7 linked regions of the Homo sapiens genome follow. The protein of the gene in region 7 purifies or fractionates together with the protein of the main gene of each other region. This does not show direct contact. Each region holds a gene or a part of one and is shown on either strand. Other genes may lie near its edges. The genes, in order: RABL3, C1orf198, PKN3, CTSA, ROCK2, GLB1 and RHOA.

The links.
Region 1: the proteins of RHOA (region 7) and RABL3 purify together in Homo sapiens (affinity purification with mass spectrometry; 3 studies listed by BioGRID and IntAct, with this or other methods). This does not show direct contact.
Region 2: the proteins of RHOA (region 7) and C1orf198 purify together in Homo sapiens (co-immunoprecipitation; 3 studies listed by BioGRID and IntAct, with this or other methods). This does not show direct contact.
Region 3: the proteins of RHOA (region 7) and PKN3 purify together in Homo sapiens (affinity purification with mass spectrometry; 4 studies listed by BioGRID and IntAct, with this or other methods). This does not show direct contact.
Region 4: the proteins of RHOA (region 7) and CTSA purify together in Homo sapiens (co-immunoprecipitation; 5 studies listed by BioGRID and IntAct, with this or other methods). This does not show direct contact.
Region 5: the proteins of RHOA (region 7) and ROCK2 purify together in Homo sapiens (affinity purification with western blotting; 3 studies listed by BioGRID, with this or other methods). This does not show direct contact.
Region 6: the proteins of RHOA (region 7) and GLB1 purify together in Homo sapiens (co-immunoprecipitation; 4 studies listed by BioGRID and IntAct, with this or other methods). This does not show direct contact.

Annotation. Positions count from the first base shown.
Region 1 is NC_000003.12:120,697,045-120,701,534, forward strand, and holds part of RABL3 (rab-like protein 3), read right to left. Parts: intron 1,530-4,490; coding exon 1,379-1,529; intron 1-1,378. UniProt on the Homo sapiens protein: Required for KRAS signaling regulation and modulation of cell proliferation. Regulator of KRAS prenylation, and probably prenylation of other small GTPases. Required for lymphocyte development and function. Not required for myeloid cell development.
Region 2 is NC_000001.11:230,857,953-230,862,442, reverse strand, and holds part of C1orf198 (uncharacterized protein C1orf198), read left to right. Parts: intron 1-4,490.
Region 3 is NC_000009.12:128,705,503-128,709,992, reverse strand, and holds part of PKN3 (serine/threonine-protein kinase N3), read right to left. Parts: coding exon 4,450-4,490; intron 4,260-4,449; coding exon 4,114-4,259; intron 3,281-4,113; coding exon 3,169-3,280; intron 3,098-3,168; coding exon 2,970-3,097; intron 2,772-2,969; coding exon 2,588-2,771; intron 1-2,587.
Region 4 is NC_000020.11:45,896,137-45,899,619, reverse strand, and holds the end of CTSA (lysosomal protective protein isoform b preproprotein), read right to left. Parts: intron 2,656-3,483; coding exon 2,580-2,655; intron 1,904-2,579; coding exon 1,814-1,903; intron 1,616-1,813; coding exon 1,511-1,615; intron 1,254-1,510; coding exon 1,170-1,253; 3' UTR 800-1,169; downstream 1-799. Other genes in the region: PLTP (phospholipid transfer protein isoform a precursor), read left to right, coding at 82-158, 557-679. UniProt on the Homo sapiens protein: Protective protein appears to be essential for both the activity of beta-galactosidase and neuraminidase, it associates with these enzymes and exerts a protective function necessary for their stability and activity.
Region 5 is NC_000002.12:11,207,877-11,212,366, forward strand, and holds part of ROCK2 (rho-associated protein kinase 2), read right to left. Parts: intron 3,965-4,490; coding exon 3,805-3,964; intron 572-3,804; coding exon 411-571; intron 35-410; coding exon 1-34. UniProt on the Homo sapiens protein: Protein kinase which is a key regulator of actin cytoskeleton and cell polarity.
Region 6 is NC_000003.12:33,012,894-33,017,383, forward strand, and holds part of GLB1 (beta-galactosidase isoform a preproprotein), read right to left. Parts: intron 3,948-4,490; coding exon 3,816-3,947; intron 1,418-3,815; coding exon 1,163-1,417; intron 1-1,162.
Region 7 is NC_000003.12:49,377,213-49,381,702, forward strand, and holds part of RHOA (transforming protein RhoA isoform 1 precursor), read right to left. Parts: intron 1-4,490. UniProt on the Homo sapiens protein: Small GTPase which cycles between an active GTP-bound and an inactive GDP-bound state.

The sequences.
Region 1 (4,490 bases), about 71 Mb from region 7:
TGGTCCTCCTGCCAGGCTTGATGAATAAAAAGCTCCAGCTGTGGGACGGTTATTCAAAATTTTCCATAGGTACTATTGGTAATATAAATACACAATCAGATTTGGGTAACTGTTGGTCTAGATGATTTCTAAGAGTTTTTTCAGCTGCCAAATTCTCAAGGTGAGTTGAAGGATTAATTAAGTGCAAAAGAGGCTTAACTGTAGAGCACAGGCTCTGAATCTGAATACCCTAATTGACCTGGGTAAACTTCCTTGGTCTTGTTACGTCTCTCCTTCTTATCTTTAAAAAGAGGATAGTAATAGTACCTGTCTTATAGAGTTGATTGTGAAGATGATGCATGTGAGATAATGTATGTAAATAACTAAAACAGTTTTCAACCCGTAAGTGCTCAATAAATGTTGCTCACTAGTACTATTACACCACCACCACTGCATTTCTGGAATGCCAGTGCACAGTTGCAGAAATCCTATTTGTGAACAACATGACCATGACTGAAATTGCTGGCCAGGATCTTTTTCTGGGATCCTAACAGGCTTACATGACAACCATTTCTTAGCTTTTTTACGCGCTCAGTTCTCATTGAGCTAGTTATCTCATCAAGGGACTCAATCCTCTATATATGCATAAGTGTACATAAATTAGTCCTTATGAAGCACTCCTAGTTTAAGGTTTGCAATTTTTTCATGTATTTGTTACGTTGCCCTTTAAGGTAAAATTTGTAGTTTAAGAAGCTAAGAGGCTTTTTAAAAGCAAGAATAATATGCTTATAGTGCCACTTTAATCAATTTATTTTAATTTTGGTGTGATTTTAAAAACCTTTCTCAAGAAAAAGCCCATGGGCCAGGTGCAGTGGCTCGCGCCTGTAATCCCAGCACTTTGGGAGGCCAAGGAGGGCAAATCCAGTCAAGAGTTCAAGACTAGCCTGGGCAACATGGCAAAACCCCATCTCTACTAAAAATATTTAAAAAATTAGCTGGACATGGTGGTACATGCCTGTAATCCCAGCTACTCAGGTGGCCTAAGCATGAGAATCGCTTGAACCCAGGAGGTAGAGGCTGCAGTGAGCTGAGAACGCGCCACTGCACTCCAGTCTGGGCGACAGAGCGAGACTCTGTTTCAAAAAAAGAAGCCTATGATTTAAATTATTCATAGAATAAAGTTGGAACATTCCAACAGACCAACATAAAAGGCTGAAGTGACTGTGCACATCTCTCAGTCTAGATATGTTGATTCCAATCTTGACTACGTTTAGACTAGAATCCAAATAGCCTGATTTCAAGTATAAAGCTTCTTTCACTAGAATATATTATTTGAATATGTCTTCAGTTTTGTCTTTACCCGATAATAATACAAGCATGCATTAGTGAAAATACATACCAAATTAATTTCTTCTGGATTGAAATCCTCAGCCAGGAAAGCAGTCCTAGTTAAAACTTCATGGCGCTTTGTTTCATGAATCTGGTCCAGTTTAGTCCCTATTACCAACAGTGGTATTTGGTTATCAGCAAACTGTTCTTGATCATAATCCCTGTGATAAATAATAATGAAGAGGTGAATAGAATGTATCTTTCTGGTGTAGATGTGTAATATTTAAGTGCAACTAAGTTACACTATTTTACTGAAAATTAACTGATTTTTGCTGCCTTCACCTACAAACCTACTTTCCTTCCAACTTCTTCCATCTACTTGTTCTTTTATCAATCCATCCTCATCATCAGATTCCAGCTATTCATCTAACTTCTCAAAATTTGGTCCCATGTTTTTATTGAATATTGAACAATACTGAATAATTGAACAACTAAGTGCCCATCAAGTATATTACAGTCAGTGGACTTAACTTCCAATGTAGCTGTGTCTTCTAAGGTTAACATAACAGCTCAGGAATATTTCAGAGTAGAAGCAGAGAGTGGATTTAAGCCTCATCGTAGCAAAAACCCAAAAGCCTAGCATGGCACTCAAGCCTTGTGCTAGAAGAGAAAATGGCAAGCTTCTTGGGTACCTTTTGGGGTATGCATTAATTCTATATCTACAATACACATTTCTGTCTGAATAGTAAAGAAATAAGAAGAATAAGAAAATAGAAATAGGGAAGCTGAAGCCTAGAATAAATCAAATATAGGTGATACTATAGCCTGGGAAAGGTGGATTAAACACATGGAAATGGAAGGAAACAGCTGAAATGCAAAATGAATAGTAAAAGGAAAGAACTTAGTACCAAGTAGTTGTTTCCTGAAATGAGAGCCATGGGAGATAGAGGACGGGCAATAAGAACCACTTAGGGTTAGTGGCCTTGGATCACTGGCTATTACAATCCTTATTTTTTAAAAAATTTATTTATCCAAAGAACAGAGTGGTGATGTAAATGATACTTCTCATTACTGAAAAGAACACAGAGGCCATTGCTGTTGAATTAATTTAAATTCTACTCACATATTAGAAATAAAACAGATTTGGATTTCTGACACGTTATAAGCTCAACTTACAACAGTCAGCAAAATCTGGTTGTGCACAATTTATGACAGTAAATCAATATTGCATAATCCAATCACTACAACCCAGTCGAGCATAGCTTTTTTTCTTCCTTTAACACTACTTTTCTTTCTCTTACAGAAATTCTAAATTGGGGTAGGGGGCAAAGTTACTAAGTATTTATGCCCTTCACAATAATCTTACAGCGCCTCAGCAAACTGTTCAGCCTCGGAACACAAGTGTTTTACTATACAACCTCCCATCTCACAAAAATATTACCATTCTATTTATTGCATCAAAGCCAATAATAGCATGATCAAGACCTTTGATTATTCATATCAACAGCAACTCTAATTAAAGAGACATGGTTCAAAGCTACAATTCGCTTTGTTAGGGAATGAAGTTTTGAGAGTGTCTTTCCTTTAGGACTGTTTCCTTCTGTCTCACATACAAAGTTTTGCATATCTTCTATCAAATATCATCTTTGATGTACATACATCTCTCATATAGTCTTGCACAATTCCTTGCACACTGACACATATAAAGCATACATATATAGTTTGCTCTCTTATTTCTCTTTTTAGCTTTCCTTTTAACTTTTTCATAAAATCTTGCAGCATCCAATTTAAAATTTAATCTTGAAATCTTCTTTGGTAAACTTCTGAAGAACTTTATCATGGATGGATAAGGCTGATAGCTCCTTAACATCACAAAGAGACACACAGCCAGGTATCATATTATATGCATAATACTGGGTGGAAAAATAAAGACAAAAAAACTTGCATCTTTCAGACCACTATATTTAATTATCACTTCAGAGAAGATTTAGAATTCAGAGAAACAAGTTTAAAAGACAATACAGGGAGACAATCAGCAAATCCAGAATATAGGAAACTGTACAAGACAAACAGCCATCTTCTTCTACAAATAAAGTGCTAGGAGGTTGGAAAAAAAACAACCAAAAAGGGAGAACCTAAGATTAAAAGATACTTAAGAAACCAAATACAACCAGTGGACCTTATTTAGATACTATTTCGAAAAAATCAATTATAACATTTATGAGACAATTGGGGAAATTAAAATAATATTTGGTTATTAAAGAATTATTATTAAAGTTTTAGCTGTGATAATTATATGGTGTCATGTTAAAAAAAAGCCCTTATGTTTTAAAGTATATATGGATGAAATGATATGATGTTTTAACATTTGGTTCAAAATAATCCAGTTGAGAGTGGGAGAAGATAGAAAGTGGGTAGAGATATGGATGAAACAAGACTAGCTATATGTTGATAATTGTTGAAACTAGGCAACGGGTATATGGGAGTTCATTTTCCATTCTTTGTATTTACATATGTTTAAAATTTTCTATAATAAAAAGTTAAAAAAAGTTATTGTGGTAAAAACTACATAATATAAAATTTACCTAAATTGTTTAAATATGGCTAAAAACTCAAACTGATATAAAAGATATATGCTAAGCAGTCTTGCTCCTACCACTGTACCCATCCACCCATCTCCCCTGGCCCCCTATAGGTTACCATTTTTATTAGTTTCTTATTTTTCACTGATTCTTTATCCAAATATAAATACATATTATTTCTTTTCTTTCTTATACAATAGGAGGTATACGATATATATTCTCTGCATTTTGATTTGTTAAACCTAATAATGTACCCTCTGTAGATCTTTCTATTTTAGTTCATAGAGATCTTCCTGATTCTTTTTTAAACATTGAATACTACTCCAGTATGTGGATATGCCATTATTTATTCAATGAATCTTTCGTTGCTCGGACACTAGGGTTGTTTCCAAATTTTTTGATGCTATACAATAATGCACCAACAAAGCACACCAATGTATTAAGGTTGTTTTATACATTTGCAGGTTTATCTATAGAATCAAAATGAAACTGTAGTGTCAAAATGCAAATGGGTATAGAACTTTTACTGAATTCCCTGACAAAAATGCAGATTTCTTTCTGATATGAATATGCTGTCTCCTAACCCTAAATTTAAGGATA
Region 2 (4,490 bases), on a different chromosome or scaffold from region 7:
ATTATGAGTAAAACATCTGTGTGTAGGTTTTTTGTGTGGACGTAAGTCTTCAGTTCATCTGGGTAAATGCCAAGGAATGTGATTACCTCACTCCTGTAATATATTTATTTGTGGAGGAATAAATATAGAAATAACTATAGCAGAAGCACAGTTGTGCATGGAGCTGTGGTTGGGAGGCCCTCAGTTGGTCAACATGTCCAGGGTGCTGTCATTATCAGTGACAACAACCAGTGTTGTCACTCGGTAATTAAACCTTACAGTTGATCCACAGGACAGGCTCTGGCATCTCTGAGGGAGTGATGGGCACGACACAGCTCACCAGGAACAACGTGTTCCACCCTGGATGAACCAAGATGGCCAGGCCACCTGGCATCACTACAGGGTGACACACTCTGCAACCTATGGGACTTTCTGTCCTGCTCACATGCTCTGCTCTCTAAGCCTTATTTCTCTAGCTTATAGAATTTCTCAGTTTACATTTCTTACCTTCAAGCCAAGATGCCACAGGTGTCAACCAGAAACTCTCCTTATTTATGGATTTCAGGAAGACGATGACCATTTCTGGCATCAATACGCGTGTTGCCGTGTTCCAAGATCCTGATGCTGTTTTAGAATCACCCCAGAAAGCCCCTCACTCCCCGCCTAGCTGTTTTTCCTGGAACAGCTTGTGGAGGCCCTAAGGGAGCCCCCATGCTGGACAGCTCCCTCTGCAGGCGCTATCCATCCACACACCAGAAACACTTGCAGAATGTGATGAATATCAGGATGTTTGTTATGGTTGTAGCCTGTGGTATGCTGGAGCCGGCTCTGGGGGAGTGAGGCGAACTAGCCCTGACTTCTAGCATTTGCTGGTTGCCATGACCAGATACTCCACCATGGCCCGTTGCACGCTGTTGGCGTGACTCACGGGATGCATATCTGGGCACCGCGCTATATGGTATTTCCACCTTACACATACAATGGATGCAAACAACCTTAAGACCATGGATAATAGTAACTGTATTGAAATGATGAGTTTCTAGTGTTTATTACTTTTTTTGGGGGGGGCACACTTTAAAAAAATTCAGTTTTTACAGTAGTTTTAGGTTCCAGCAAAATTGAGCGGAAAGTACAGAGAGTTCCCACACAGACCTTTCCCAAAATGTACACACAGACGTGCATATGCACACAGCCTTTCCCACCACCAACATCCTAAACCAGAGTGGTGCACTGATTACAATCAGTGAACCTGCATTGTTTTTATCATTGTCAACCGAAGTCTCTGGTTTACACTAGGGGTCGCTCTTGGAGGTATACGCCATGATGGTATCATACAGAGGGGATCCATTGCCTTAACAGAAATCCTCTGTGTGCCACCTGCTCATGCCTCCCGCCCCCCAGGCTCTGGCAGCCACTGATCTTTTTACTGTCTCTGTAGTTTTGCCTTTTCCAGAATATCATATAGCTGGAATCATACAATATGTAGCCTTTTTAGATTGGCTTCTTCCACTTAATAATATTCATTTGAGGTTCCTCCATGTCTTTCCATGACTTTTTATTGTGGTAAAATACATACAACATAAAATTTACCGTTTTAACCACTTTTCTGTGTATAGTCCGAGGCATTTAGTACAGTCTCAATGTTGTGCAATCATCACCACCATCCATTTCCAGAACTCGTGTATTATTTAAAGTGAAACTATATCCTTTAAACAATGAAACTCTGTATATATTAAACAATAACTCCCCATTTCCTGGCCTCAGTCTCTGATAACCTCTATTCTACTTTCTGTCTCTATGATTTTGCCTACTCTAGGTACCTTATATAAGTGGAATCACATGATTTTTATCCTTGTGTCTGGCTTAGTTCACTAAGCATAATGTCTTCAAGGTTCATCCATGTTGAAGCATGTATCAGAATTTCCTTCCTTTTTAAGACTGAATAATATTCCATTGGATGGATAGACCACATTTTGTTTATGCATTCATCATCTGTCAGTGGATACCTGGTTGCTTTCATCTTTTGGCTATTGTGAATGGCACAGCTATAAACATCGGGGTATAAGGATCTCTGAGCCCCTGCTTCCAGTTCTTTCGGGTGTATACCTAGGAATGAAATTGCTAGAACAAATGGTAATTGTATGTGTAATTTTTTGAGGAACTGCCGAACCGTTTTATATAATGGCTGCATCATTTACATTCCCACCAAGAGTGCACAAGGGTTCCAGTGCCTCCACATCCTACCAATACTTGCCAGTATCTGCTTTTTGATAGTAGCCATCCTTGTGGGTGTGAAGTATATTACCTTTATTTTTAATACAATGGACTTAATTGCAAGTTTGTATAATTCACCTTTTTAATCACAGCAGTTAAACAAGATATTTAACAACAGGTTCAAGAAATTCCTCAAAATTTTACAATCAGCTCTCGTTAGTTGGTGCAGGCCTGCTCCAACACACCTCTGGTTGCAGCCTTGCAGCCTCCAAAAATAAAAGTGTCTAGGAACCACAGAGTTCTTAAGCCCTCCAGTATCCATTTTTTTTATCAACAAGTAAAGAAGTAAACGCTGGCGATATGATGCAAACATGTATTCCAGCACTATGAGCAAAAAATATATGTTATTATTTTTAATTCTGTTTCATTTAGGATTTAGGAGGTGCACACTGAATTGAATGAACATTTCCCAGAGAAGAGCAAATACTCAAGGTCTCTGGGATGTTAGGGAAAAAGATTGTTTGTGTGTGTGTTTATCCCGGAGTCCTTGGAGCTGCGTGGGGACTGGCAGAGCCTCTTACATGTAGCGCTGGCCTCTGATAATTGCCAAGTGCTCTGTGTTTCTGGTGGCTTTCTATAGCTTCCCCCCTGCTTTTTGGCTTTCTGCTCTGGGATTTGGTGACCTGGGGCATCTTTCTGTTCTGCACTCCAAAGAAGTCATTGTTTCTGGAGAGATTCAGTGCTGCCCATTTGGTATGGATGCCTCTTACGGAATTTGACTCTGAGGATAAGTCCTGGCCAACAATGAAGCCCACTCTCTTGTCGTGTGGCCTAAGTAACAGATGTGTTTTGACACTTAGATGATTTCAGATCCTAGGCGCCAGAGAGGGGGGTGGGAAAGCCTTCCAAGCAGTCCTAGAAAAAGCATATGTGATTGGTCCAAAAGCATGTGCCTGGCCTCATTTTGGTTGCAGGCTGGTCACCATGGGAGTAGAAGAAAGGACAGCATTGTATGCGTGTGAGTGGGTGCCGCCACTTTGCAATTCTGATTCCATTTGCATCCAACAGCCCAGGGAGCCTGTTCTTGCCGCCAGTGCTTTTTTGTGGCTAGAGCGTGCAGTCCACGGCTGACATCAGAGCTTCCATCACATTTTTGTTTGGCATGTTTATTTTTGTTAAGCACTTTATTGTTTTTTATGAGCTCAGAATTACAGAAACCCAAGGAATCTGCCCCTTGACTTCATTTCTTGCTGGAGCAAACAGAAGACTATTGACTCGACACTAAGTAGGGGAGAAATCACAGTGTGACCCTTTCTCCTCCTGTGACCCCCTTGGAATTTCAGCTAATATGGGTTGCAGTCACTGGAGAGTTGACTGTCCCCAAGCTCTGGGCTAAGTCTTCGTTCCTCAGAGTGTTGTATTGAGCCACCTTCCAAAGCCAAAAGCCTTATTATTTTAATCTTTGCAGATTTCAAAGGGACTTAAGGTATATAATTAATATTTAGAATCATATCGAGTAACAGGGGAGTCCAGCTCCATCATGCCCCACCCTGGCCAGTCAGTGGTCCTGCCCTCTGCCTGCCCCGCAGGTGTTCATGCACTTCCTCTTTCCATTTGGGTGGCCAGTGGCCTGTCTGATTCTGGATGGAAGGAGCACCTTTGCCAGTTGATTTCCATTTACCTTTTTCGAAAGATCCAAAGCTGGATCTCTACTCTACCCTGTGGATGGCCGGTTCTTCCTCCTGGAACTAAGAGCTGTGAAGAGCCGGTGAAGTCTTAGGGGGTGTGTGAGTGTGGGGTGTGGAGGCTGGGGAGGAAAATCAACCTGTGAAAATATCCAGGCTTGTGCAGAGATCATTTATTCACGAAGAGTTAATGAATGATTAACTAGAATAAATGATACTTACATTCCATCAGCCTCTTTTATTTTTCCCATGTGAAAACAAAGCCCTTCTTGGTTTGATTGCTTCTAAACGGAACTCAGAGGGTTCTGAGGATTTTAGGGACTTTGGTTATTTAGCTCAACTGTACCCCTAGCATGCACACAGAGACGTGGACAAGGAGCCCCCTAGAGCTGAAGGCTGGCCCTCTGCCTCTGCTAGGAGACATCTAATCACAAAGCCTTGGTAACTCACATTCCTCCAGGCATCCATTTCCATTTTTGGAGGAATGAAGTTTGTGCATTGGGAAGTGACTTGAGTTTAACTGAAATTCCAAACAAAAAGGCAGTGGTTCCTCTCATTTTTAAAGGTTTTGCTTGACAGCCATGAGGCACTGCATACCAATCAGTTCAGAAG
Region 3 (4,490 bases), on a different chromosome or scaffold from region 7:
GATCGCGCCACTGCACTCCAGCCTGGGTGACAGAGCTCAGAGTCTCACTCTGCTCGGAGTCTCACTCTGTTTGGAGTCTCACTCTGTCACCCAGGCTGGAGTGCAGTGGCACAATCTCAGCTCACTGCAAGCTCCGCCTCCCAGGTTCATGCCATTCTCCCACCTCAGCCTCCCGAGTAGCTGGGACTACAGGCGCCCGCCACCACACCCAGCTAATTTTTGCAAATTTTTTTTTTTTTTGAGACAGAGTTTTGCTCTTGTTGCCCAGGCTGGATTCCAATGGTGCCATCTTGGCTCACTGCAACCTCCACCTCCCGGGTTCAAGCAATTCTCCTGCTTTAGCCTCCTGAGTAGCTGGGATTATAGGCATGCACCACCAGGCCCGGCTAATTTTGTATTTTTTAGTAGAGACGGGGTTTCTCCATTTTTGTCAGGCTGCTCTCGAACTCCCGACCTCAGGTGATCCACCCACCTCGGCCTCCCAAAGTGCTGAGATTACAGGCATGAGCTGCCGTGCCCAGCCTAATTTTTTTTTTTTGAGACGGGCTCTCTGTTGCCCAGGCTGGAGTGCAGTGGCGCGATCATGGCTCATTGTACCCTCAACCTCCCTGGGCTCAAGCAATCCTCCCACCTCAGCCTCCCAAGTAGCTGGGACTACAGGTACGTACCATCATACCTGGCTAATTTTTTTATTTTTTTATTTTTTTTTGAGACAGAGTCTCGCTGTGGCCCAGGCTGGAGTGCAGTGGTGCGATCTCGGCTCACTGTAGGCTCCGCCCCCCGGGGTTCCCGCCATTCTCCTGCCTCAGCCTCCCGAGTAGCTGGGACTACAGGCGCCCGCCACCACGCCCGGTTAATTTTTTGTATTTTTAGTGGAGACAGGGTTTCACCGTGTTAGCCAGGATGGTCTCGATCTCCTGACCTCGTGATCCGCCCGCCTCGGCCTCCCAAAGTGCTGGGATTACAGGCGTGAGCCACCGCGCCCGGCGATTTTTGTATTTTTTGTAGAGATGGAGCTTTGTCATGTTGCCCAGGCTGGTTTCAAACTCCTGGACTCAAGTGATCCACATGCCTCACCCTCCTAAACTGCTAGGATTATAAACATGAGCCACTGAGCCAGACCAGAAAACTCTTTCTTTTTTTTTTTTTCTTGAAAGAGTTTTGCTGTGTCACCCACGCTGGAGTGCAACAGTGCAATCTTGGCTTACTGCAACCTCTGCCTCCCAGGTTCAAGCAATTCTCTTGCCTCAGCCTCCCCAGTAGATGGGATTACAGGCATGCGCCACCACGCCCGGCTAATTTTTTTTGTTTCTAAAGATGAGGTTTCACTATGTTGCCCAGGCTCGTCTAGAAATCCTGGGCTCAAATGATTCGTCCACCTCAGCCTCCCAAAGTGCTGGAATTACAGGCTTGAGCCACTGTGCCCAGCCAAGAAAACTTTCTTTTTTTCTTTTTTTTTTGAGACTGGGTCTCAAAAAAACTCCTGAGCTCAAGCAATCTTCCCACCTCAGCCTCTCAAAGTGCCAGGATTATAGGTGTGAGCCACTGCACCCAGCAATTTTAGTTTAATTTTATTATTTTTTTTCCAAGGAAATTATTATTATTATTTTTTGAGATGGAGTCTTGCCCTGTTACCTAGGCTGAAGTGCAGCGGCGCAATCTCAGCTCACTGCAACCTCACCTCCTGGGTTCAAGCAATTCTCCTGCCTTAGCCTCCCGAGTGGCTGGGACTACAGGCATGTGCCACCACATCCAGCTACTTTTTTGTATTTTTAGTAGAGACAGGATTTCACCATGTTGGCCAGGCTGGTCTTGAACTCCTGACCTCAGGTGATCCGCCCACCTCAGTCTTCCAAAGTGCTGGGATTACAGGCATGAGCCACCATGCCTGGCCCAAGAAAACCTTTTTTTTTTTTTTTTTTGCGACGGCGTCTTGCCCCGTCGCCCAGGGTGGAGTGCAGTGGCGTGATCTCGGCTCACTGCAACCTCCGCCTCCGGGGTTCAATCAATTCTCTGCCTCAGCTTCCTGAGCAACCAGGATTACAGGCACCCGCCACCACGCCCGGCTAATTTTTGTATTTGTAGTAGAGACAGGGTTTCACCATCTTGGCCAGGCTGGTCTTGGAACTCCTGACCTCATGATCCACCCACCTCAGCCTCCCAAAGTGCTGGAATTACCAGCGTGAGCCACCACGCCCAGCCTAGAAAACTTTCTAACAGTCCAAGCTGCCCAGTGCTGGGTATCAAGCTTTCCAGGGCTGCGAGCTTCCTAACACCAGTGCTTTAAGCATTATTCTGGTTATTTATGTAAATACAAGCTACGCTGTCCGAGTGCTGACTGTGCTAGGCACTGTGCTTAGCACATCACGTGCAACACAGCAACCCTATGAGGTAGGTGCTATATCATCCACATTTTACAGATGGATAAACTGAGGTTTGAAGAAGGAATGTCAGTTTGCCAAGGTCACGCTGCTAGTGGGTGCTGGGGCAGGACTGGAACTCTTGAACTCTTCATCAGAGTTGTTTGTGCTTCCGGCCTCCCCCCAAAAAGAAGGAGAGCTTTGAAGGGGGAGGAACTTCTGACTACCTGTTAGGGCGGTGGGCTTCACAGGTGTCCCTGAAGGCTGGGGGTATCCAGGCACCGCAGCCCGCAACTCTCGGGTCACTCTGCTGCGCAAAGGGTGGGCAGGAGGCAGTTGCTCCAGCAGCTGCTCCAAGGCCAGGCGCAGGAGGTCCAGTTTCTGAGAGGACTCCTGTAGCTGGGCCTGGGCCTGCAGAGGGGACAACGTAGAGCCAGGTTCGTGGGGTATATGGCAGGGGGCAGCAGCCCAGGTCACCCGGAGCCACCTTCCGCATGAAGTCTCAACAGAGAAGTCCTGCTTTTACACGGCCACCCTCCCTTCACACCCCTGCTGAGGGTGGTATGGGAACAAGCCAGCCTTAGGAGAGGGCCAGGGCTGGGGCCTGACCTCAGCCAGTGCCTTGCGGTCCTGTGTTCTCCGGCTACTAAGCAGTTTCACCACGTTCTTGGCGCCCTCAGCCACAGCTGCCTCAACGTGCAGTCGATGCTGTAGCTCCTCCGCCAGCAGCTCAGGCCCTGTGGGAAGGACGGCGGCTCTCAGGCCCTGCTCTTCCCTGCTCCGCCCTCCCTGTGTCTCAAGGCCTCACCTGGCTCCGGGGACCCACTGGCCTCCAGGCTGCTGATCTTCATCCGCAGCAGGGCCACCTTCAGCTGGCTGTCCCGCAGCATCTGCTGGGCAGCTGCCAGGAGCTTCCTCTCCTATGGAGCCATAGCACAGGCCCATCAGACCAGGCCTGGGCCACAGCTTCCCCCATCAGACCAGGAACTGGAGCCGGGTCTCCCCCATCAAAACAGGGTTAAAGTGAAACCTCTAGGCCAAACACTAAAGTCAAGCCTCCCTTGTTGGACTAGTTGGTGGGTCAGGGGAGCCTTTTCCATCTGACCAACAAGGGCTGGGGTCAAATTTCCTCTTTCATATCACGGCTGGGGTCATGCCTCTCCCATCAGATCAGGGCTGGGGCTAACTCTCCCCCATCAGATCAGGGCTGGGGCTAACTCTCCCCCATCAGATCAGGGCTGTGGTCATGCCTCCCCCATCAGAGCAGGGTTGATGCTTCCCCCATCAGATCAGGGCAGGGGCTAAGCTAAGCCTCCCCCATTAGATGAGGGCAGGGGCTAAGCTAAGCCTCTCCCATCAGATCAGGGCTGGGGATAAGCCTCCCCCATCAGATCAGGGCAGGGGCTAAGCTAAGCCTCCCCCATTAGATCAAGGCTAAGGTCCTGCCTCCGTCATCATATCAGGGCCACAGCCAAGTCTTCTTGTCAGACAAGGACTGAGGCCCAGTTCTGGACATCATGCTGGGAGTTGGGACTGGGGCTGGGCTAGGATCCCATTAGACCAGGGCAAGGCCTTCTCTGTCACACTAGAGACTACAGCCATGCCTTCCTCACCCAGCTGGGGTTTGGGGCTGTATTTTCCCCATCAGGCTGCAGGCTGGAATGGTGTCTCCTTATGAGCCCAATGGCTGAGGTGCATTTCCCTGTCAGACCAGGGGCCAGGGTGCTCCTGCCATCAGACTGTGGGGCCTTACCTTGGGGGTGCCACTGGCGCACGTGTGGGTCATGTTCTCAGCCCCCTGCTTCACCTTCAGCTCCACATGCAGCTGCCTCCGGAGAGCCTCTAGGTGCCGAGCCCTGAGCTGCTCTGCCCACGGCCGGGGTCCTGAGGCCACAGGCTCTGTGCACGGGGGTATCGAGCACAGGAGTCCCTCACCCAGAGCCGAGACCCCCACTGTGGCCTTTCCTCCTTCCCCTACTGATCTATAGGCAGGAAATGAGGTGGTCTCGCCACAGTGGCCAGGGCCAAGGCCAGGGGCCAGATGGGCCTAGAGCCTTCTGTCCTGAGGGGGTCTCAGCTCCTCACTCACCAGCTGGGCCAGGCCCAGGGCCGGGCAGCAGGATTCGGGCG
Region 4 (3,483 bases), on a different chromosome or scaffold from region 7:
AAGGCTGGGGTGTGAGGATGGAGGAAGAAAGGAGGGGTGAACTGGGCGGGCCCAGACTGAGCGGGGTGCTCCCACCCACAGAGCGGACCTGGCGTGGGGTGCAGATCCCACTACCTGAGGGCATCAACTTTGTGCATGAGGTGGTGACGAACCATGCGGTGAGTGGGGGCAGGATGGGGAAGGAGGGAGGGCCTTCCCCTCTCTCTATAGCTCCCCAGTGCCCTCCATTACCTGACCCCAGCTCCCCCATTACCAGTCGCCCCTCCCATTTTAATCTTAGACTCCTAAAAGCCGTTGCACACACTGTGACTTCTTGGAGCACTCTTCTCCCATCCCAATACCTACTAATTGTTCAGGTCTTAGCTCAGAGGTCACCTCCTCCAAGAAGCCCTCCTTGACACCCATAGTCTACACTCCTACAGCCTCATTTTAACACCTTGACATGGAATTATCCATTAGATTGAGTTCCTGAAAGACAAACACTCTGTCTCTTGATCTCTAAACTCTGGCCTCAATAACTGAATGAATAAATGAGGCTCCCCTCTCCCCAACACAGGGATTCCTCACCATCGGGGCTGATCTCCACTTTGCCAAAGGGCTGCGAGAGGTGATTGAGAAGAACCGGCCTGCTGATGTCAGGGCGTCCACTGCCCCCACACCGTCCACAGCAGCTGTCTGAGCCCTCAATCCCCAAGCTGGCAGCTGTCATTCAGGACCCCAACCCCTCTCAGCCCCTCTTTTCCCACATTCATAGCCTGTAGTGCCCCCTCTAACCCCCAGTGCCACAGAGAAGACGGGATTTGAAGCTGTACCCAATTTAATTCCATAATCAATCTATCAATTACAGTCCGTCCACCACCTCCCTGTGGGCTGTCCTGAGCTCTGTTGGGTTCCTGGGATGGAATCAGTGCATCATAAAGGGCATTCTTTAAGCAGAGAAGGGGCCAGGCCACCCCATTCAGGAACTGCTGCGGGAATAAAGTGCTAACTTGCCCCCAGGCTGTCTATGGGAGACCCTGGGCCCAGTCTGGGATGTACAGGGCTCTGGGAAGGGGGCAGTCCTGGCGGCAGAACCCGGCCTGCAGGGGCACTTTGCTTAGAAGAGGACTCTCCTAGCGGGAGAGGCTGGGAGGGGCTGCATCAGGCCGTGGAGCTGGTTGCTGTGGTCATCAGTATGGCTGCTTGTTCAGGAAGCGGGAGAACATGGTGAAGGCAGCGAGGGGCTTGTCGGTGGGAACCATGTGGCCGGCGCCCTGAGGAGCAATGTTCGTGAGCTCCTGACCCCACCATTCCCTCCTCCCCATATAACTGCTCACTCGGGGGCAATTCCTTCATCCCAAACCCTTTATTCTTCCCAGAACCCTCCCCACCCCTCTCCAAAAAAACTTGCCCATACAGGGGCCAGATGGTGACCCATGACCCAGCCTAAAAGGCAGCCAGAGGGAAAGGACGGGTGGGTCCTGCTCCTTTGCCTCCGGCCCAGTTATCTCTCAGCAGGCCCAGTCCCTACCTTGATCGTGAGAAAGGCGATGTGGGAGAACTCCTTCACGAAGCCGGCAATCTGCTCCCCGCTGTCCCCGTACTTCACTAACCAGGGCCGGCGCTGCACCTCCATCTGCCCCACCAGGAAAGACATCAGCCTACAGCAGCTGCATCCTTGCTCACAGCTACCAGCAAGACCTTAGGGCTGGGAATTCCTCCACACTTGCCCTCTGTGGGCCAGAGCCAGGCAGCCAGCTGGCCACTCCCAGGCATACCCGCTCCCAATCCTCCACAGCAGCCCCTATCCCAGGGCCAGGAATCTCTACCTTACCTTCTGGTTGAGGGAATCCACAAACCACTCATCCCCCATGAAATTGCAGGCCATGTCTACATCTCCATTATATAATAGGATCTGGTATTTCTAAAGCAGGATGGGGTAAAAATGAGGGGTGTGGAACAAGCCCAGTCCCCAGCCCTTCCCTAGTTCAAGGCCTACCCCTCAGGAAATTCAAGGGGCCAAGCTAGATAACACGAACCAGGGAATTTTCATGTTTTCTAACGACTTACTGCATGTCCAGTATTCTACTAAATGTTTTATCTGTGAAGGTAGATATCATTATTATCCCCATTTTACAGATGGAGAACCTGAGGCTCATATTTAAGAAATTTGCCCAAGATTATGTGGCTAGTACAGGGACTTGCACCCAGGCCATGTGACTCCAGAGCCCATGCTATTAACCACTGTGCTGGACAGAACCTAGTCCTAACTTGGCCCTGCCAGTGCTTCCTATATCACCTTGTGCAAGGTCTCCTCCCACCCTGGACCTCTGCTGGCCCATTTTTGGCATGAATGAAGCTCTTCTCACCCTTAAGACTCCGTGGCTGATGCAGACCCCTAGGCCTCCTATAGCAGGACAGCATGGGTGGGGACAAACCCAGGTTCAAATTCTGACCCCACCAATCACAGGACCCTGGGCTTCGCCTTTCGGAGTTTCAGCTTCCCTTGTCCTGACAGGAAGTCTCAAGGGCCCCCAGCTTGCTGTGCTACTCTGGGGTCCTAAGGCTGCTGGTGATCCAGCTGTGCTCTCCCCACTCACCTGTGAGCTAAGCAGCTTCAGATACTGGGAGTTCATGCTTCGGTAGAGACGGCGGTACTGTAAGTTTACCAGAAAGCTGCCGGGAACATACGAGCAGGCCCCAGGAAGACCAGGTCGGGGCGAAAAGTAGTCAACAGATCAGACCTTCTCTCCTATCTCCAAGCTCCAACCCAGAAGGCAGACAGCTGGGTTCCACTCCCCTTTTTGGGGGGGGGCCACCTCTCTAGGACTGACTTGGATGTTGGGCTGGATGGGCTGGGATTCAGACAGCCTCAACTCACCACCATTTAGAAAGGTACAGGGATGCTGGGCGTGGTGGCTCACGCCTGTAATCCTAGCACTTTGGGAGACCGAGGTGAGTGGATCACGAGGTCAGGAGTTCGAGACCAGCCTGACCAACATGGTGAAACCCCGTCTCTACTAAAAAAAAAAATACAAAAATTAGCCAGGCGTGGTGGTGCGTGCCTGTAGTCCCAGCTACTCAGAAGGCTGAGGCAGGAGAATCACTTGAACCCGGGAGGCGGAGGTTGCAGTGAGCCAAGATCGCAGCACTGCACTCCAGCCTGAGTGACAGCAAGACTCCATCTCAAAAAAAAAAAGAAAAAGAAATGTACAAGGGACGCATTTTGGTTGTTACGAGGACTGGGATGCATCTGGCATTTAGTGTCTAGGGGCCAGCAGGTGTGGGAGTCACAACATACAACAGGGTAGAGTGTGAGCACTGACCAATCAAAATGGACCTGAGCAGCCCTGCTGGGCCCAGTGTTACCCTTTTACTTGGGGTTGTGGGGGGGGGTGGCCACAGGAGACTGGACATGGAAGTTAACAGTTTGTTATTGTTGTTTGAGATGGAGTTTCACTTTTGTTGCCCAGGCTGGAGTGCAGTAGCATGATCTCAGCTCAC
Region 5 (4,490 bases), on a different chromosome or scaffold from region 7:
TTTCTTGCTCTATTTTTAATGTCAGGTTTCTAACCTAAGAAATAAATTGTGTACTTGGTATATAAGTAAATTATTTCCATTTTTCTAATCAATGAAGTTGGTATAAAATATGGTGATGTAAAACAGATTTTTTTACCCTTAGGTAGCTAATTCATTTCATACTAAAATTTTTTTTGTATTTCTAATAATATTATAATTGTATTTTTTAAATAAAATATAATAAGGTAAATATAACTTTAAAAATGTTTAAATTATGATTCCTTTAGTATATCATCAAAATTTAGTTAAACCAACAGGTTGCAGACTATTATAAGAAAAACTTTAAAATTATGAAACCATCACTAGACCTTCATGAATAAACCTATTAATTCATTAGTTTATTATTAATCATTAGTACACTTAATACTTACATCCTCATTTAGCACATCTTTCTGTTTAAGGAGCTCATTTATTTTCTGCTGTGACTGTTTGAGGTCACAGTCTAATAGAGAACATCTTTTCTCAGCTTCTAGCAATAGGTTCTCCACTTTCTGTTTTAAAGTTCTTTCCTCCAAGAGCTTCTTCTCCATTTCTAGTATAATAAAAATGGACACAATCATAAATTTACAAATAAAAGAAGCATATCATAAATTTGTAAGTAAAAGCACATTAAATGACACCATACTAATAAAAATTATAATAAATGATGCTGCCTTATATTCTATTAATTTTCTTTTTTTCTTTTCTTTTTTTTTTTTTTGAGACAGAGTCTCACTCTGTTGCCCAGGCCGGAGTGCAGTGACGCAATCTCAGCTCTTTGTAACCTCCTGGATTCAAGCAATTCTCGTGCCTCGGCCTCCAGACATAACTCGGATTACAGGCGTGTGCCACCACACCCAGCTAAGTTTTGTATTTTTAGTAGAGATGGGGTTTTGCCATGTTGGCCAGGCTGGTCTCAAACTCCTGGCCTCATGCAATCCACCCGCCTCGGCCACCCAAAGTGCTGGAATTACAGGCATGAGCCACTGCACCTGGCCTTAATTTTCAATTTAATATTTTCACTTTCATACTTGAAAATTAGGAGTTTCATTCACAGGGTGTAAAAATGTATCACACTCTGCAATATTACATCTATTCTAATGGAAGCAAGATAGTTCTACCTTTATTTATATTCTACAAGATGCTTACATCTTTAAACAAAGGTTTCTTATATTCTACTGCTTACTGCTATTCTATGTCTCTCAGTGTTACTATTTTTACCTTAAAACAATCCAGGTAGATTCTATGATCTCCATAGGACTTTCCATGTTAACACATTATTATGCAGGTGTTGAAAAATATGTTTTAGGGAGGTGGTAAAGGACAAGACTCTGGAACCAAACTTTCTGAGCTTAAACCCTGGGTCTAACACTGTTTGACTGGGCAAGTAATTCACCTCTCTGGACCTGTTTCCTTATCTCCAGAATAGGGATAACAGCACCTAGGGAGGTTGTGAAGATTTAATACATGTGTACCACTTAAATGCTGCCTGGCATATGGCAAGCACTTGGTAAGTGCTTATTATTTAAGCAGAATTTTTAATGACCAAGGAAACGCTCACAATGTCTTGTTTTTTAAAAAGCAAAACGGTATAGAAAGTGGAGAAAATTTACAAAATAGTATCCTAACTCATAGGATTATGAGTAATCTTTGCTTTTTTCTTTATACTTTCCTGTGTTTTCTAAATTATTTACAATAAATTTTTAATCTATTTTACTTATCAGAAGGCAAAGTTCCAAGTGATTTCAGTGTTAAATGTAAGTCATCACAGTTAAAGGATTATCTTGATATACTGGTTAGTACTTCAGTTCACATTCAATTAAGGCTCCTCTGCTTTTTCATAATTAATGCTCAACATCTAATTATCATCTATTATAAAGTTGTATTAGGTAAAAATTAAACCTATGAATATTTAGTGTTTAATGAATGGTCTTCAAAAGTGCAGAAAAATGAAACATTCCCCATGTAGTACTAATAATAGCATTTCTAAACACTTTACATGTTTTATTGCACTTGATTTTCACAACAACGTAACAATACTGTAATTGTCCCTTCACAGGAAACAAGACACAGAAAGTTTAAATAACTAGACAAGGTCACATAGCTAGTAATTATTTGGTGAGCCATGTTCTTAATCCAAGGAGCCAATGACATGCAACAGAAGGACCAAAGGCTTTAGCCTCAGATTTGAAACCATCTATAATATGTAACAGTTTTGTGTACTCATGTGTAAAATATGGAAGTCATCATGTATCTTACATTAGCGTTTTAATAGTTTGAAAAAAATGGTAGTTAATACTGAATTGGTTCATTTTTATCAATTCAGAGAATAATCACTAAACAAATGTCCTCATTTAACAAAAAAAACAATCACCATAATGTAGGCATTGAGAATAGAAAGAGGCATTACTGAGATAATGAAAATAGTCCTTTTTTTTTTTTTGAGATGGGGTCTTGCTCTGCTACTGAGGCTCAAGTGCAGTGATGCAATCATGGCTCACTGCAGCCTTGAACTCCTGGGCTCAAGCAATGTTCCTGCATCATTGCAGGAATACTGAGAGTCCTACTCCCAAGTAGCTCTGACTATAGGCGCACGCGACTACATCCAGCTAATTTTTCTATTTTTTGTAGAGATAGGGTCTTGCTATGTTGCCCATGCCGGTCTCAAACTCCTGGGCTCAAGAGATCCTCCCACCCTGGCCTCCCAAAGTGCTAGGATTACAGATGTGAGCCACCATGCCTAGCCTGATATATTCTTTATCTTGTTTTGAACAGTAGTTATGTGAGCATATCACGAAATGTCAAAAATGTTTACATTTTATTATTGCATGTAAATTATACCTCAATGAAAATAATTGAACTCTGTCTTCTAGGCCACAGACAAGGAAATATGGCCCAGTAACTTTCTCCCTTACAATTAGATTTTTGTAAATAAAGTACTCATTTCATTTCTTATCATCCTGATTTAGTGCCTTAAACTACACTGATTTTTACTAAGAAAATCTACCATTTTAATTACATGCAATAATTAAAAGGCTATTTTTTCTAAGTTAGTTACTCATGTAATGCTTCAATATGAAAATAAATTTCTGTTCAAGAGTTTTAAGCCTTTCACAAGAATAGCTTAAAGTACTGATTTTCTCTGGAATTTCAGAGTCATTATAAACAGTCAGTTTGGAAAAGAAAAAATTATCCTAAGACAATTCCAGGATAAAGTCTAGTTTATGGGAAGGTTAACTTTGTTATCTATTAGTATTATATGGCTTCGACCAAATCTGGCTAGTATCTTCATCATGTTAGAGATCAAAATACTCAGTGAACTTATATTCTAGTTAGACCAGCTATTACTTTTAAATTCTTACCTTGCATAAACTGGCAAGAATTTTATAATACAAAACTCTTGTATTACAAGAATTACCTGTATCAATAGTAACAGGTATACAGCGTGTGAAGTTCAGATATTCCTTCTTACTACTGATACACGTATACCGAGTGGTACAGATATTACCAGGTATATAATATTGAGAAATATTAATTTATCTCTGATCTAAAAATCTGATCATGTAATTTTGTGTTTGGGTCTTACTATCTTAGAAATGATTACTGTAATGATACAAAGGAAAAATAATAGAATATCTATGTAAAGCTTCCCTAATAGTTTTTTTCCCTCCAATTCCCAATATTTGACAATGAAATATAAAAAAAAATGTTTCAAAACCAAAAAGCTAACACAGAATCAATTCTTAGGAAGACGCTGCTGGAAAACCCTCTTTAAAAAATGCATACCTTTCATGGCTTCTGATTTGGCTTCTTCGATGGACTCATAGATCTTATTTTTATCTGCTAGTCGTGCCTTTGTGGCCTTATGTTCAGCTTCTTCTTGTTCTAGGCTCTGCTGTATAACTTTTAGTTGGTATGTCATATCTATTTCCATGTTGCTTTTTTCCTATTAAATATTTAAAATGCAGCTATCAACAAAAAAGAGACTAGCTCACAATTTCAAAAGCTTTCTAATTTTTTTTTTTTTTTGAGACAGAGTCTTGCTCTGTTACCCAGGCTGAAGTGCAGTGGTTTGATTATGGCTCATTGCAGCCTCAACCTCCCCAGGCTCAAGCAATCCTCCCACCTTGGCCTCCAAAGTAGCTGGGACTATAGAAGTTTGTCACCACTCCTGGCTAATTTATTTTATTTTATTTTTAATGTAGAGACAAGGTCTCATTAAACACTGCCTACACTGATCTTGAACTCCTGGGCTCAAGTGATCCTCCCGACTCAGCCTCCCACAGTGCTGAGATTATAGGTGTGGGCCATGGTGCTCAACCTTAACTTGTTTTTTAACAGGCTTAACTAGAATGTTCAGTATTTCCCCTCCCGTCTTCACTCAAACCTTTTAGAATAGTAATCTATATACTCTACTTCTCTACTTCCCACTGTACCCAACAGTCTACACCACCACTCTGCTGTTCTGAGAT
Region 6 (4,490 bases), about 16 Mb from region 7:
TTCTCAATGAGACTATGGTCCAGCCTCCTAGATGGTTTCCTCGAATCCATAAGTGTCCTTACCCAAACCATTCTGCACAATGGGGTCAGAGGAGCTTGTCAGATCACAGTCTTATCATGTCACTCTCCTGCTTCAATGGCTCTCAACACAAAGACAAAACTTTAACGTGGCCTATAAGGCCCGTCCCAATCTAGTCTCTACCTACTTTCCACACTTGACATTTTCCCCTCCAACCCCATGGCCTTTGCACAAGCTGTTACCTCTCCCAGGAACATGCTTTCTTCCCTTCTTGCCATGCTAATTCTTACTCATCCTTCATATCTCTGACAAGCATCACTATCTTAGGGAAGGCTTCCCTGACCTCCCTGACAAGGCAAAATGCACCAATTATTATCAACCCCATAGCCCTTCTTAGCATCCATCACAGCTATGGTTTTACTTTTTAATATGAGTCTGCCTCCCTCACTAGACTGAAAGTTCCATGAGGGAAAGGACCATGTTTGGTTTTATTCATGATTGTATCCTTAGTGCCTGGCACACACCTTGGGCACATAGTGGCCACAGAATGAGAAGTGTGTTGAATGAGTGATGGTAAGGTGATCTAGGATGAAAACAGGACATGAGGGAGAGGAGAAGGCGGTGAAGGAAGATATGCCAATGTCTTCAAACGACAAGGCGGAGTGACTGGGAAGTGAAAATGGATGAGGAAGAGTGGAGAAGCAGACAGCTTATGATAGAAGCCCCAGGGGTGTGGGGCTGGATGCAGGTGGGGATATTCTGGGAGCACTGGGCTTGGCATAAATGAAAACCAGACAGACTCTCCCAGAGGGATCCACCTCTTTGTCTTGACTGGATTGTCCTCAAGATAAAGAGAAAGCACCCCTATAATCAGCATCAAAAGGGGTCATGATTCTTCTTGGAGGAGGCAGGATGGTGTCATTCACTACAGGAAGCCAATGACAAGGGGGCAGATGGCAGCACCTCCGAGCTGGCCACTGAATCCCTGAAGATCTGCCACAATCCGCCTCCTGAAGAATGTCCGAAACGCCACACTCAAAACCATCACACGATATCTCACTAACAGCTCTTTGTGATTCTTTCTCAGACACTAACAACCAAAAGTTTAGGCCTGAATTCAAACCCTTCCCATGAAGACACGTACCTTGGTCCATCCAGGAAACTGGATAAAGGTGTCCTGGGGCAAGTCTGGGATCCCACTGGGAATGGAGAAGTTCCCCATATAAAAGGCCGGGAGCGTGTAGTTGGATGAGTTGTGGGCCCAGGCTTCATCATGGTGGCCACTGTCACGGTGTCCCCAGCCCCCCAGGTGGCTGCACACTGCATCCTCAGTGTCCAGTGGAAAGATCGTCCAGTCCGTGAGGATATTGGAACTGAGAGTCAGGTTAGAAACCAAACCCTGCAAAGCAGAAACAGAGCACAGTGAGCTGGGGAGGGAAGGAAAAAGGCTTCACATGTCTCTGCATTCCAGGGAAATGGGAAAAGCAAACCGGGATACAAAACACCAACAGGAAATGAACCTCGAAATATGTGTACATCGAAGTAACACAGATCTAACTGGAGGTTGAATTACAAATCCTTGGGAAGAGATATATTCCCCAAACTATAGCTTTCTCCTTTGCAGGTCATGATGTCTCTATAAAAGGCCCAGAGTTTCTGCTTCTACAGAAAGGGCATTGAGTTGCTAGAGTGATTGATCCCAAATTCCCAAATTTTCAGAGTTTGGCTGAGAGCCACTGCTAGAATAGAGAAAGATGGGCACCAAGAAAGATGGGCCAGGCGCAGTGGCTCATGCCTGTAATCCCAGCACTTTGAGAGGCCAAGGCAGACAGATCACTTGAGGTTAGGAGTTCAAGACCAACCTGGCCAACATGATGAAACCCCATCTTTACTAAAAATACAAAAGTTAGCTGGGTGTGGTGGCAGGTGCCTGTAATCCCAGATACTCAGGAGGCTGAGGCATGAGAATCGCTTGAACCTGACAGGTGGAGGTTGCAGTGAGCTGAGATCGCGCCACTGTACTCCAGCCTGGGTGTCAGAGCGACACTCCATCTCAAAACAAAAAGGGATCCAGTCTCTACAAAACATACAGAAATTGGCCTAGTGTGGGGGCATGCACGTATAGTCCCAACTACTTGGGAGGCTGAGAAGGGAGGATTGCTTGAGCCCAGGAGACAGAGGTTGCAGTAAGCCGAGATTGTGCCACTGCGCTCCAGGCTGGGTGACAGCAAGATCCTGTCTCAAGATGGAATCTGGGGACAGAAGGAATGAGTGAGTGTGGGATACAAAGGAATAGTCATCCCACTGCGGATGGAGCAGGTACGACGGATGCAGCCAGGAGCAAATATTGGCCTTGAGCACCTCAGCCATCATCACAGGGAGGACCACACCCGAGTCACTCACCTGTTATGAGGGCCAAGTGAGATAACATACATGAGAATACTGTGATACCTTAAGAGGATAGGAAGGTAATGATGACGATGGCAAACCTCAGACCTGAATTCAGAAGCTGCTCTATTTGTTCCACACAGGCCAGGGCTGGGCTGTCAAGGCTCAGCTAACTTCCCCTTCCCTGGCTTGTATGTAGGGAACTTCCCCATTCCCAGTGGAATCCCAGATACCAAGTCTCGATTGCCCATTTAATAATTTGATAAATATTAACCAGGTGGCTGTATGTCAGGCTCTTTGACAGGTACTGGAGACCCAGAGACTACACAACAGAGTCGAGTCACTCCCATGGGTCAATGTGGCCTGTGAGAGCCAGGCAGGAGGCCATGAAGTCCACCCTGAGCACAAGAACTATGAGAGAGACATTTATACTGGAGGCAAAGGTGGCCTGCACACAGCTATTCCCTAAGTTCCCTAAGATGTAATTGCCTGATCTCAAGAGGGTCAGGAAATAGCCCCAGACACCTGTCCTGCCCTAGCCTGGGTGGTGCCATTGTTCCCTTGATAAGGCATTCTCTCCTCTCGCGGAGGTTGAGCTCCCTGAGAGAAGCCTGTCTCTTGACACCTTTGCATTCCCCAAAGCACCTGGTGGGGCATCTCGCGGAGTGGGAGCTTAACAAATGCTTGCTGAATAATGCTCTAAAAATATGTGTTAGAAAAACTTATTTGGGCTACACATCTGGACACAGGAGTAATCAACAGAGGTGAGAGCCAGTGCCCCAAGGGAAGAGGCTTCCTACAAGTGAAGAGTTTGCCACAGGCTAACCATCCAAACCCATAAAACAGGGCAGAACAGAGGCTCAGCTGGCTTTACTGGCAAAGGAGTGCCTTCAGTGAGCTTGGTGGTCTTTTAAAGCAGAGGAAAAGCATGGTGGAGGGGCTTCCTCCTTCTGTTTCTTTCTATAGGATGACCAAACTCAAACACAGGGGAAAGGTTCTGTTTGCAAAGCTCAACTTTCTCATCACCTACAGAGGAAAACAGCTCTTCAAAATAGCTCAACTACTTCTTTTTTTTGAGACAAGGTCTCACTTTGTCACCCAGACTAGAGTGCAGTGGCATGATCATAGGTCATTTTAATCTCCAACTTCTGGACTCAAGCAATTCTCCTGCCTCAGCCTCCTGAGTAGCTGAGACCACAGGTGCATGTCACCACACCTGGCTAAGTTTTTAATTCTTTGTAGAGGTCTCACTATTTTACCCAGGCTGGTCTTGAACTCCTGGCCTCAAGTGATCCTCCTGCCTTGGCTTCCCAAAGTGCTGAGATTACAGGTGTGAGCCACTGTACTGGGCTTCAACTTCTAAGTTGTCACCCCTTAAACCTTAGTCTTGACAGTGTGGTTTGTCCTACCTTAAAATCGTTGATATATGCACCATAGTTCACACGTCCCATGTTCTCTACCAGAAGGTCCAGAGTGGCTCCAGCTTTCCCTGTTATGTTCAGAGTGATCACATTGTTTCGCTCAAGGACTCCCTGGGGGATCTGTGGGGTTCAAGACCAAATGACAATTGAATTGAGGGTAAGAAGGTCAGCAAGGAGAGGCAGCATGCTCAGTTAATTTAGCACTCATTTTCTTGCCTTGAAGTGTCACCAGACTTGGAAAGAAATGCTTTGATAGCATCTTAGCCCAAGTTACCGGCCAGGTCGGAAAGATCCCCCAATCACTGCTTCCTAAACAGGAAAACTGCCAGACACAGCTCAGAGCATGGAACGGTCTAAGCTGGTTTCCTTTGCCCTGGAATGTTTTACTGCCAACTACTTTTAGTGGAAAATTCCAGGGGAGGATTCTTACTAGAGTAGCTGCTTCGTGTTCTGACAGCACAAAAGTCACTCACAAAAAATTGCTTCTGAACAACATGGAGAGATAAGACAAAATCAGACAAAAGAGATAAAATCAGAGAAGTTAGGTGGAGTATTCTCACCTCAAAATACTTGACATGATGCATTAACCACGAAAATCATACAACAGAATGAGGAAAAACAACAGGTATTTTATCAACAACATATTCCTAACTTTTTAAAAGG
Region 7 (4,490 bases):
TCAGGCCCAGGAGTTAAGAGACCAGCCCTGACAACATAGTGAGACACTGAGAAAGGAAGGACGGACGGAAGCATGAGAGGGGAGGGGAGAAAGAAAAGGGCCGGGCGCAGTGGCTCACGCCTATAATCCCAGCAATCTGGGAGGCCGAAACAGGTGGACTGCTTGAGAGTCCAGGAGTTCAAGACGAGCCTGGGAAACATAGTGAAACCCTGTCTCTACTAAAAATACAAAAAATTAGCCAGGAGCGGTGGTGCATGCTAATCACAGTTACTTGGGAGGCTCAGGTGGGATAATCCCCTGAGCCCTGGAGGTGGAAGCTGCAGTGAGCTGAGATTGCATCACTACACTCCAGCCTGGGGAACCCCAGTGAGACACTGTCTCTAAAAAAAGAAGGAAAAGAAAAAAAAAAAAATCAGCCAGTTGTGGTAGCATGCACCTGTAGTCCCAGCTACCAAGGAGGCTGAGGTGGGAGGATTGCTTGAGCCCAGGAGGTGGAGGATGTGGTGAGCTATGATTGCATCACTGCACTCCAGCCTGGGTGACAGAGTGGAACCTTGTCTCAAACTCTTATGACTCAACTACAAAAAAGCAGCTTAGGTTGGTGGTCTGGCTCAGGATCTCTTGCAAGGTTGAAATCATAAAGAACTCTTTTTGGGCTGGGCACGGTAGCTCACACCTGTAATCCCAGCACTTTGGGAGGCTGAGGCAAGCAGAACACTTGAGGTCAGGAGTTCGAGACCAGCCTGACCAACCCAGCAAAACCCCGTTTCTACAAAAAATTCAAAACTTAGCCGGGTGTGGTGGTGGGCACCTGTAATCCCAGTTACTCGGGAGACTGAGGCAGGAGAATCGCTTGAACCCAGGAGGCAGAAGTTGCAGTGAGCCCAGATTGTACCACTGCACTCCAGCCTGGGCAACAGAGCACTCCAGCCTGGGCAACAGAGTGAAACTGTGTCTTAAAAAAAAAAAAAAAAAAAAAGAGAGAACTCCTTCTGACATGAAGTACGCTATTTATCTATCCATCTATCTTTTTTTTTTTTTTTTTTTTTTTTGAGATGAGGTCTCACTCTGTCACCCAGGCTGGAATGCAGTGGCGTGATCTTGGCTCAATGCAATCTCCACCTCCGAGGCTCAAGTGATCCTCCCACTTCAAATTCCCCAGCAGCTGGGACCACAGGCATGCGCCACCACGCCCAGCTAATTTTTGTATTTTTGGCAGAGACAGGGTTTTGCCATGTTTCCCAGGCTGGTCTCCAACTCCTGAGCTCAAGTGATCTACTCGCCTCGGCCTCCCACAGTGCTGAGGGATTACAGGCGTGAGCCACTGCCCATCTATCTACGCATCTATCCAATCTATGTACCTATCTAACCTATCTATGTGTTTCTCTATTATGTAGTTATTTTCAGAAAGGGTCTCATTCTGTCACCAAGGCTGGAATGCAGTGGTGCAATATTGGCTCACTGCAGCCTCTGCCTCCCAGGCTCAACTCAAGCGATCCTCCCACCTCAACCTCTCCAGTAGCTGGGACTACCAGGCTCCTGCCACCACAGCTGACTAATTTTTATACAGATAGCGTTTCACTATATTACCCAGGCTGGTCTCAAACTCCTGGGCTCATGCAATCCTCCCGATTCAGCCTCCCAAAGTGCTGGGATTACAAGCATAAGCCACCTCCCCAGGCCTAAATACAGTATATAGAAAAAATTAAAAAATAAAGAACTCTTACAATTCAATAATAAAAAGACAAATAATCTAATCCAATTAAAAAATGAGCAAAGGATGTGAGTAGGTATGACCCTGCAATTCTATTCCTAGGTATATATCTAAGAGAAACAAAAACATATGTCCACATAACAACTTGTACCTCTACATGAATATTCATAGCAGGATTATTCATAATATATTGTCAAAAAATGTAAAGAACCCAAATATCCAACAACTGATGAATATAATATATCCATACAATGGAATGGAATATTATTCAGCGATAAAGGATAAAGTACTGATATATGCTATAGTATGGATAGATCTTGGAAATGTTATATAAGTGAAAGAACCCAGTCACAAAAACCAACATGCATGATTCCATTTATATAAAATTGTCCAGAATAAACAAATTCAGAAAGAGAAAATAGACTGGTAGTTGCCTAGGGCAGGGACTTGGGGGTGGAGAGAAATGGAAAATGACTAATGGAATACTGGAGTTTCTCAGGTAAAAAGATTTTTCCAAAATTATTGTGGTGATGGCTGCACAACTCTATGAATATACTATAAACTATTGATTATAGTATATATAATTCACACATTTTATTTATTTTGAGACAGGGTCTCACTCTGTTGCCCAGGCTGGAGTATAGTGGTGCGATCTCCACTCACTGCAACCTTAGCCTCCCCAGGCTCAAGTGAACCTCCAATCTCAGTCTCCCAAGTAGCTGGAACTAAAGGTGCATGCCACCACACCCGGCTAATTTTTTGTATTTTTAGTAGTGACCGGGTTTCACCACGTTGCCCCAGCTGCTCTCAAACTCCTGAGGTCAAGCGATCCTCCTGCCTGTCTCTCCCAGTGTGTTGGGATTACAGGCGTGAGCCACCGCACCCAGCCCACAGTATATATAATTCACACTTTAAAAAGGTGAATTGTAAGATATGTGGATTATATTTCAATAAAGCTGTTACCACCACTCTCGCCCCCAGTGGGGGGAAAAAAGAGAGAAATCTGCAGATTCCTTCCATCTGGCAGACAGTGATGGTCAACCATCCCAATTCCCGCCCTTCCCTCCTAGACCATACTTCGATTTTTAGCTATGTACTTTGTTGTAGACTACACTTCCTAGCTTCCCTTGGAGACATGGCCATGTACCATGAGATGTGAGAATCAGCAGTATGTTGTGGGACTTCCAGAAAGTCTTTCTTAAAGGGAAGTCTTTATTATCCTCCTCCTTTCCTGCTGCTTAAATCTAAAGTAAGGGCTGGTTTCTAAGCAGCCATCCTGGTATGTGAGAATGAATGCCATACCGTGGGGCTGGAAGAACCAAAAGGTAAAAAGGAGCCTGGATCTCAGGTGATCTTGGGAGCCACCATCTCAGCCCCAAGACTGCCTACCTTCCATGTTTCTTCCATATGAATGAGAAATAAATGACTGTCTTATTTAAGGTGGTATTTTTCAAGTCTCTGTTACCTATAGTCAAACTAATCCTAAATTATATACACTCAGCTGGGCATGGTGATTCACGCCTGTAATCCCAGCACACTGGGAGGCCGAGGCGGGCAGATCACGAGGTCAGGAGTTTGAGACCAGCCTGGCCAACATATGAAACCCCATCTCTATTAAAAATATTAAAATTACCCAGGCGTGGTGGGGTGAGGCAAGAGAATCGCTTGAACCTGGGAGGTGGAGGTTGCAGTGAGCCAAGATCATGCCACTGCACTCCAGCCTGGGTGACAGAGACTCTTGTCTCAAAAATAATAATAATAATAATAATAATAATAATAATAATAATAATAATAAATACTCATTATCAAAACTATATTGTCTAAAGGGTATGTTCCCCAACCAGAATGGATAAGACAATCCACAGGGGTACCAGAAGAAAACTCAGAGGGCAAACAACGACAAAAATAAACAATGAAAACAAAACAAAAAAACTCAGAGGGCTGACAGTGCTGCCATTACTCATTTGTGAATTCTCAGGACAATATTACATACAGCAGTGAATACGTGTGTGTGTATATATATAGATACAGATATTATAGAATTTTATCCAAATCTACAAAATCTAGTAACTTTTTTTTTTTTTGCAAAAAGGGAGTAAATTGAAGATACTACTAATCATGAAAGCACAATAAGAAGCATATCGATGATAGGGAAATGTGCTCAATGCATATCTTCAAACAAGAGCATGCAGTCAAGGCTAGGAGTAATGGCTCATGCCTGTAATGCCAGCACTTTGGGAGGCTGAGGTAGGCGGATCACTTGAGGTCCAGAGTTCAAGACCAGCCTGGCCAACATTGTGAAACCCCGTCTCTACAAAAAATATAAAAATAAGTTGGACGTAGTGGCATGTACCCATAATCCCGGCTACTCGAGAGGCTGAGGCAGGAGAATCTCCTGAACTCAGGAGGCAGAGGCTGCAGTAAGCCGATATCTCGCCATTGCATTCCAGCCTGGGAAACAAGAGAAAAACCCCGTCTCAAAAAAAAAAAAAAAGTTAGCTGGGTTGGTGGCAGGCACCTGTAACCCCTGAAAGGCTACTCAGGATGCTGAGGCATGAGAATCACTTGAATTAGGCAGGCGGAGGTTGCAGTGAGCTGAGAACGCGCCACTGCACTCCAGCCTGGGCAACACAGTGAGACTCTGTCAAAAAAAAAAAAGGATTGGCATGGTGGCTCACGCCTGTAATCCCAGCACTTTGGGAGGCCGAGGCCTGTGGATCACGATGTCAGGAGTTCGAGACCAGCCTGACCAACATGGTGAAACCCCATCTCTACT